Regions from separate parts of the Homo sapiens genome. Here region 2 is linked to region 1. Evidence: fine-mapped QTL for protein levels in blood plasma. A gene starts in region 1. The other region holds a variant in brackets. All regions are shown on one strand. Distances are from middle to middle.

Region 1 (4,392 bases):
TATTGTTTTATTATGTTTCTTAGCTTCTTTGCATTGGGTTACAACATGCTTCTTTAGCTCAGGAAAGTTCGTTGTTACCCACCTTCTGAAGCATACTTCTGTCAGTTCAGCCATCTCAGCCTCAGTCCAGTTCTGTGCCCTTGCTGGGGAGGGGTTGTGGTCATTTGCAGGAGAAAACGCACTCTGGCTTTTTGGGTTTTCAGCATTTTTGCGTTGATTCTTTCTCATCTTTGTGGGCTTATCTACCTTTAATCTTTGAGGTTGTTGACTTTGAATGAGGTTTTTGTGGGGTCTTTTTTGTTGATGGTGTTGTTGTTGTTTTGTTTGTTTTTCTCTTAACAGTCAGGCCACTTGACTGCTGCAGTTTGCTGGAGATCCGCTCCAGACCCCAGTTGCCTCACTTTTTCCTGTATCTGGAGGTATCACTAGTGAAGGCCACAAAACAGCAAAGATGGCAGCCAGCTTCTTCCTCTGGAAGCTTCATCTTGGGTGGTTTCTGATCTGTTGCCAGCCCTCATACACCTGCAGCAGGTGGTTAGAGACCCCCATTGGGAGGTTTCACCCAGTCAGGAGGAACGGGATTAGGGACCCACCCAAAGAAGTAGTCTGGCTGCTTTTTGTAGAGCAGGTGTGCTGTACTGGGAGTGGGGGTGGGTGGGGCCCTCATAGTCTGGACCACCTGTATTCTCCACAGCTGGTAGGCTGGATCAGCTGAGTCCACTGAACCATAAAGATGGTGGTTGTCCCTCTCCAAGGCAACCTGTCCCAGGGAGATATCAGAGCTCTCTCCATAGCGCCCTGGCTGGAGTGACTGAAGCTCCTGCAGGGAGGACCCACCCATGAGGAGGAATGGATTGGGGTCCCACTTAAAGAAGCAGTCTGGCTGCAATTTGGCAAGGCAGCTGTGCTACATTGTGGGGGACCCTTCCTTGTATGGTCCATCTGTATTATCCACAGCTGGCAGGCTTGAATGGCTGAGTCTACTGAACTGCAGAGATGATGGCCTCCCCTCCCTCCAGGAGCTCTGTCCCAGGGAGAGATCAGAGCTCTGTTCATAAAACAGTTGCTGGAGGGGCTTAAGGAGGTCCTCTCTAGCGAGGAGGAATGACTTGGGGTCCCGCTTACAGAAGCAGTCTGGCTGCTTTTTGGTAGGGCAGGTGTGCTGCATTGTAGCAGAGGGAACCCTTCCTAGTTTAGACCGTCTGTATTCTCCACATCCAGGAGGCTGCAGCAGCTGAGTCGGCTGAATCACAGAGACGGCAGCTGCCCCACCTGCTGGGAACTCAAACCTGTCTCAGGCAGACTCCTATCCACTGCCATTGGCTGGCTGGGATTCCAAGCTGGTGGGTCTTAACTTGTGGGGTGTCATGTAAGTGGGGCCTGAAGAATGGTATTGCTTGGCTCCCTGGATTCAGCCCCCTTCCTACAGATGGATTTCCTGCCTTGCTGATGATTGTGGCCAGAGTATGTAAAACTTCTGGGCCTCTTTGTATGTGCCTGAGTGGCTGCTCTGTCAAGACAACACACAGCTCTGTGTATCAGACTCAAGGCCCTGGTGGTGTGGAGTCATGAGGGGGTCTCTTGATCCACAGGTTGCAAAGATTCATGGGAGAAGCATGGTTTCCTGGGTTGCACAATCACTCACCACTTCCCTTGGCTGAGGGTGGAGGTTCCTTTGGCTCTGTGCTGCTCCGAGGTGGGCTCCCCACCCTGCCCAACTTTTCTTCATTCTCCATGGGCCGGTGGTTTGCCTAGTCAGTCCCAATGAGAGAACCTGGATATTTCAGTTGAAGGTACTGAATTCACTTGCCCCTTCTCATTCCTCCCTGAGTGCTGCGGGCAGGGGCTTCTAATTGGCCATTATGGATTGATCTCCCTGCAGTGAAGTGTTCTAAGTAGGAAGAACACATGGTATTGTGGAAAATCAACATAGCATGGTGGCTCAGAAATAGATTCTGGAGCCAGGCAGGTTGCTTGGTTTGGAATTCTGGTCCTGCAACTTACTGCAACCTCTCTATGCCTTAGTTTCCTCACAGTTTAAAGAGGGATAAAATAATATCTATAGGTCTATTTGCGAGGTTTTAAAATTCTTGGAATAGTACCTGGCTCATTATACATGCTATAGAAATGCTTATTCAATTAAATAAATAAAAGCATCTTTGGTAAGATAACTCTGAACATTGTATGGTTTAGTAGAGGATGCTGACAAGAATAAATAATTAAAACATATCATGAAGTAAGCATAAAAGATAGTGGTAATGCAAAGATGCGAATGAGCTCTGCTTCCTGTGATTAGTGTGAGCAGACAAATTCACTGTACTCAGAAGCTTAAAGCCTAGCGTGGGAAGCTGACATGAATGAAAACCAACGGGAAAAAATGTTAGAGTAGAGGTGTAAGCAAGAGTGATTAATTTCAACTTGAAAGCAAATGGGGGAGGTTTCACAGAGAGGGGCCCAGCATGTTGGTTGATTGCTTGGGCTCCAGAATCAGGCCAGCTCAGTTTAATGCTGACTTTGTACCTCACTGGTTTTGTGACTTGACCTCTCTAATCCTCCATCTCCTTATCTGTACAGTGGGGGGAAATAATAATGATAATAATAGGTAGCTCATAGGACAAATAAGAATTCACAGTTAATGCATCAAAAATCTTAGCACAAGGCACTCAATAAATGTGAAGCTTTTATTGTTATTACGAGTTGAAACTTGAGTGGGAAAGAACTTCGTTCACATTAAACATGAGAAAAGGCCCAGAAGTTGAAAAGCATTTGACATAATTAAAGAACAGCAAGTCAGTGCCACTTAAACGGTAATCCAACCACCGCCAGTCAGTGAACAGCTTTTTACTGCTCCATGAACAGGTAAGTATAGAAATTGTGAGTAAGCATTTAGAAATAAAAACAACAACAACAACCAATAATTGAAAAACTAATTTTATACTTTTTGGCATACTCATTGTACACTTGTAATAAAAACTGGGCTTGTAGTTTTTGTCTCTTTTCTTATTTGCTAGCAGGTTTTGATTTGTATTTTACAGAAATAATGGTCCATGTCAGATTGGAAATAATAAAAACTTGTCTTTTACCCTTGATAGTTTGAGAAAAAAGTAATTCAGTGGGGTTAGATATGGCATCCGAGAGATGATTCGGGAAAGGTGGGCCAGGGCCATGTTTATGTGGACCCTCCAATGCCTCAGAGTTCACACTTGTTTCAGTGGGCAACAGGACTAGTAAGGTTTAGAGGGACTGTTAACCGAAGGTGAGTGGACTTTGCACATTTTATGGTATTTTTTTTTTCCCAGTAGGCATGTGCTTATTCTTTCTTTTCTTTTCTAATTAAAAGTTCTGTTTGGTTTTTTTAGTTAAGAGGAGAGACTGGAACTGCTCAGTGTTTCACAAAGATAACTGTTTGTATTTGATAAGAGTTTCGTTAAACAAAGGAATTTGCACTTATCAAAACATAAAGCATTGAAAACACTGAGCACATACTCTGTGACCAGAATGCGTGTGACTTGTTGAGATAAGCCACACCGGGTAATCAGATGAGTCTCCTTTCTTCTTGGGCACCCTCATATAATTCAGGCACAAACGAAAGAGAAAACGCTTTTTCTGATCTCTCAGTTCGGGTCATCTCTGCCTTCCATCATCACCGCCTAACAATCCTACACCTGGCAGGGTGGGAAAACGGTTTAATAATCTCTTCCCTTTGGGAGGCGTTTGACAGCTCAGAAAGCATGGCCTTTACTCAGGCTCAGAGACACACAAAAACCTTTCACGTTTTCCTTTCAGCTTCGCAGCCCCGTCCTTCTCCACCTGCACGGGCACCCACTGAAGCACAGGACCCTTCTGCCAAGCCATGAGCCTTCTCAGGCCCCTGCCGCCCGCCTCGCCTGAGGCTGCGCTTCTGAAAAGCACGCGGCCCTGGCCTGCGCACCACCCAGTCTGAAGGCGACGCCCCTGCACGAAGGAGTCAGGCCTAGGGGCTCGGGACCCAGGGCGACACTCAATTTTCTAACAGGAGCCACAGCCCAGAAGCTGAGAAGCCTTCCGGCCGATCTGTGGCCCTGAGGTCGCCCTTGGAGGGCGAGTGAGAACCCCCCAGGCGTTCCGGAGGTGGCCCCCAGCCCGAACCCGGCGCCCGCCCCGGCTTCCCGAGTCAGGTCTTTGCCCCGCCTCTCGGCCCCGCGGCCTGGCCGGCAAGCAGGGCTGCAGTCACGGGGCGGCGCGGAGGGCCCCAGCCCAGTCAGGGGTGTGGCCGCCGCCACCGTAAGGCTAGGCCGCGAGCTTAGTCCTGGGAGCCGCCTCCGTCGCCGCCGTCAGAGCCGCCCTATCAGGTGTGTTTGCAGCCGAACTGGCAGTGCCCGCGGGCGGCTGGGCCGAGGCCTTGGCTCCTAC
Region 2 (4,396 bases), 390 kb after region 1:
TAATGAGTACTAAGCTTCTCAAGGGCTTGAGCAGGCTTGTTAGTCTTTTTAGGGCCAGCTGTGCACCAACTATGCTGTTGTTGTGTTGAGGCCTTAGCATTCCTCACTTCAAATCAATTACTTCTTTATTACCTTAATACATCACTGGCCATGTGGCTGATTTGGAATGTAAAGGAGACTAACCCTGTAGGATAATAACTTTCACTTGGCACACAAAATCTATACGGATATTCAGAGCATTTGCTTTTAAAAAATGAATATTCTGTAGCCTGTGCTGCCTGTTTATTCTTATTTAGAGAATTTCGTCATTTTAATAATTTGGTAATATTTTACTGGTAGGTGCGGAGATATGTAAAAAAAAGTGTATTTTTTTCTTTTCTTGTGGATTTAAAAAATGTTTAGAATTTTTATTTGCAGCCTATAAACAATAATAGTACTTTATCCTTTCTTATTTTTGCCTATATTACAAGCAAGTAATTTCATTTAAATTGACTTTAAGCACATTCCTTTGAAAGAAACCGAAGATTGTTATCTTTGGCAATCCTGATTAGATTTCTTCCTCAGACAACAGTTTATTAAGTTTGTGCTATGAATGTGGGCAGGTGGTTTGACTCGGTGGAGCAAGTAGTGGGCACTCTAGAATTCTTTTTCTCCAAGTACTCAAAGGCCTTTGGAAGAATTTCCTCTCTGAGCATTTAGATGTTCCTTCTACTCTGTGAGGTGAAAGTGTGTTATGTGGTTTTATTTTTCACTTATTGAATGCCAATTACATGCCAGCCCCAGGGTTGTCTTACATGTGTTATCATATCTCATTTAATCTGAAAAAGGATTATGGCATAGGCACATAATATTATCTTCATCTTTCAGATAAAGAGGCATAAGTTCAGGTAAATACATATCCCAGTAGTTACACAGCTAGTGCCTAATGATAGCAGGATTTACCAGATCTGTCTGCCTTTTTCAAATATAACACCTTGCCTGGGAATGAGCTAGCAGAAGACTTTTAGAAGATGAGACTGGAGAAGTGGCTTCAAATTTCATTCTAATCAAGACACTAAGCTTTGCATTTATTTATTCCTTCATTACCATTTATTGGGCACCTAATGTGTGTCAAACAATCTAGGAATTGGCGACATTACAATGAATAAAAAGCATAGATCCCTGTCTTCCAGAAGTTTACTTCTGGTTATTGGAGGTTTTGAGCCAAGAAATGACATGATCTGGCTTAGCTTTTACAAAGACCCTCCTGGCTACAGTGTGAAGCATCACCTGAAGAGAGGTGAGGGCTTCAGCAGCAAGCCCAGTTAGGAGGCCACTGCAGCAATCCAGACAACTGCGGGGCTTGGACCACAGTAGTGGCCAAGATGAGAATTTGGATTTTATATGGACTTAGATGGAAACACCAATGGGATTGCTGAGGAACTGAATGTAGAAATTGCTTGTCCATGTTTTAACTGCAACTATGGTCAGCCTGCATCCTAAACCTATGCTTTTTAAGTTATGTTAACATGCTGAAGTACAAAGTGACTTCACAACTATATTCAATTTCATGAAAAACTGTAGCTCCTCCTTTTCAGCTCCTTAGGCTTAGGAAAGGAGAGTGCCTCTTGGAGCCTGGAAGAGGCAGGAGAGAGCTCTGTGTCCCAGAAGCATTTGTCATCCAGGCTGCAGTTAGCCAGCTGGCTCCTTCAAAAGCCACACACCTGGGTGGCAGCACATATGTGGTTATACCTGAGATATGTGGTGTGTCCATCTCAGAGCCACTCAAAGTCCATTTTAACCCTTCCCTATGGCTCCCCATGAGGAGGTGGGAAAACGAATCCTCTTAATAAGATTTAAGCACAGCTTCACATTTTTCTGTCTTTGTTATTTCTCAGAAATGCCATTATCAGTCTGAGTCAGAACAGATATTAATTCTTGGTCACAAAGTAGCACTTTTGGCATACTCTCACCATTTTTTTAACTTCAGAAACAGCTTCCTTGTAGGTAACTTTCACTGAGCTGACATTGTCAGCCAAAAATGGTTCTGGAGCCACTTCATCTGCCATAAAATTTAATAAGTCCAGGATACAAATTTGTGTATCACAAGTCAATAAAATTGCCACCAAGCTGTTTGTGTAGTAATAAGGTCAATAAATGTCATCCTCATTCAATTAATTTTCATTGACCTTAAGGAAATGACCTTCTATTTCCAAGTAGGAGAAGAAATTGGCCATGGAGAAGCATAACTGTTGCATCTGCTTTTCAGTTATTACATTACTGAAGATAGCATGGGCATCTAGCTATGCTTGTATATTCAGACTAAAAAGTAATCTACATGGCTTATCCTGAAGTAGACCCAAATGATTTAATTACAATTAAGATCATTGAAAGACCCCACAATATGCTTGGGGTCATCCTAACTGCATCTTCCAGATATGATCTAATATCTCACTGATCTTGGCCATCCATTGGGTTCTGCTGGGCAGGATATCAAGTTAAGGATGTGATGAGAGGCTCTCACTTTCTGGCCTGCAAACTGCATTTGTCACAACCCCTTTCTCCATTAACCTGGCCTGGAGATCAGCCCTGAAGTTGCTCCTTTGCTGTGCTGGCCATACCCTGAAGGAGACAACCACACCAGTGAGAGTTGAATGCCTCTGATTTCCTCCTTCCTCCACAAGGCAGATGAGGGACCCTGCCATTTTTTTATAAAATTCAAAATCAACTAAAGTATCACTTTTTTATTTTATTATTTTCCCAGGGCTGC[G/A]TCCAAAGAGGACTCTGCGGCTGGTGCTCTGGACTGCAGAAGAACAAGGTGGAGTTGGTGCCTTCCAGTATTATCAGTTACACAAGGTAAAAACCCAGCTGTGGATTGCTAAGCATTTGTACATGTAATATACAAAAATCCCTCTCATTGTCCATTTAAGACTTCAATAATACTTTCTGGTCAACTGGCCCTAGGAAACACCCTTGTATGAGCCTTCTCCCTCCAGCCCTGTGAATGAGAATGCACTGGTAAACCAATGATGCTGTGGTGTAGAGCTGAGGGCTTTTCTTCTTCTACACCACAGTCTGAGGCCAAAGAAAAATTCCAATTGCCATGCTGCCATTTTTTTCAAGTCTACCTAGTTCTGCTGTATTCATGTATGTCAGAGAAATAGTTATAGGCAAACATTCCCTCTCCCCACCGAGCCTATCCCCATACCTCAATGCCCGCCATATTCCCAGAAGCCTTGGCATTTGAGAGCCAGGTTCCAAGTCATTGAGTCTGCCAAGAGCATTGCCATGATGGTGGTGGAAATGGCAGCAGCCACAGGCCTCTGTCCCAGGAATGTGGAGGACAGCTTGGTTTGACACCAGCTGTCATTACACAAGTGTGAAGCTTGAAGCAGGAAGGTTATTGTGGATGGTCATGATTAGAAATACAAGACCACATGGAAGAGAGGGGATAGGGAGATTAATATCAAGAGCAAATTTTGAGACAGCAAAATATACAAGCTGAGAAATACTCTAGATCAAGTCAAATGTTAGTTCAAAGAGGAACTCCAAAATCAACGCGCATATGCTGGCAAGCAGTGATGGTTGCCCAGAGAGGAGCATTTGGTCTGCTGCTGCTGCTGGATGGTTTCCCCTGAATGTCCAGATGAGAAGAAGCAGATCTTGCAAGCTTAAATTATCCAAATCGGAGAAGGGTTTCTTTTGTGAATTGTGTGTATGTTATTTTTGACCTTTTTTTTTTTTCAAAGTCAGTCTCTATTACCCTATTTCAGTCAGTTAGAGTATAATGAGTTCAAAGTCATGAATTTGGTCACTGAATACAATTATTTACTGTACAAAGGACAACTTATGACCTATGCCCTACTCTTTCACCACTTTAGTTCTTTTGGCCTCAGGTGATCCTGGGGATAACATAATTCAAGACAAGTGTCCTTTGGTTGGTAGGTCAGTAACATCATTTTCTATGTGTTGTGGTAGACCACAACATCATATAAGGGTTGTTCTAGATTCAGCAACATTCAATTAATATTTTCTGAACATGTACTATGTTCCATACACTATGTTATGCATTAATGTTAGCATCAAAAAGATCTACCCTGACCTTACAAAGCCTACATTCTAAAGGACACTGACGATTAACTTGAATTATAAGGTGTTAAGTCTTTCTGGGAAAGAAATTACATCTAAGCTGAGACCTGAAGACTGAGTGGAAGTAAGCTAAGGAAAATGGAGAGGGAGGGAGGAGGTGGGTACTGCACCTTGGCAGAGGGACCTGTGTGTGCAAAGGCAGGAGATGAGACAGAGGAAAGCACACCAGAGAAATGGAAAGGAATTCAGAGTGGCTGCTGCATAGAATGCAAGATGCACAGTGGTAGGAGGGTGGAACAGAGACGTAAACAAGAGCCTGAACAAGAAG

Direction of the effects. Alleles are on the strand shown, and positions count from the first base shown. The strength of an association depends on the size of the effect and on how common the allele is.
For the plasma level of the protein whose gene starts at base 4,171 in region 1, A is the low allele of the variant in region 2 and G is the other (strong association).

The links. PIP is the posterior inclusion probability: the model's chance that the variant is causal. Protein levels are from antibody-based Olink assays in UK Biobank. Linkage for the fine-mapping came from a reference panel and not from the study's own genotypes, which makes the PIPs less certain.
Region 2: its variant is fine-mapped to the plasma level of the CPQ protein (UK Biobank, PIP above 0.99). The variant lies in the coding sequence of CPQ. If it changes the protein, the assay may bind it differently, which can mimic a change of level.

Annotation. Positions count from the first base shown.
Region 1 is chr8:96,641,072-96,645,463 of GRCh38, forward strand. CPQ (carboxypeptidase Q) reads left to right here and starts at 4,171. Exons shown (of 8, transcript NM_016134.4): 1 at 4,171-4,331. RefSeq lists a silencer at 4,046-4,392.
Region 2 is chr8:97,026,660-97,031,055 of GRCh38, forward strand. It overlaps CPQ (carboxypeptidase Q), which reads left to right. Exons shown (of 8, transcript NM_016134.4): 6 at 2,744-2,835. The region is part of intron 2 of LOC101927066 (a long non-coding RNA gene); the gene reads right to left. Among named protein-coding and RNA genes, the nearest start is that of TSPYL5, 250 kb to the right of the region's middle. The variant G/A (reference allele first, on the strand shown) is at 2,750.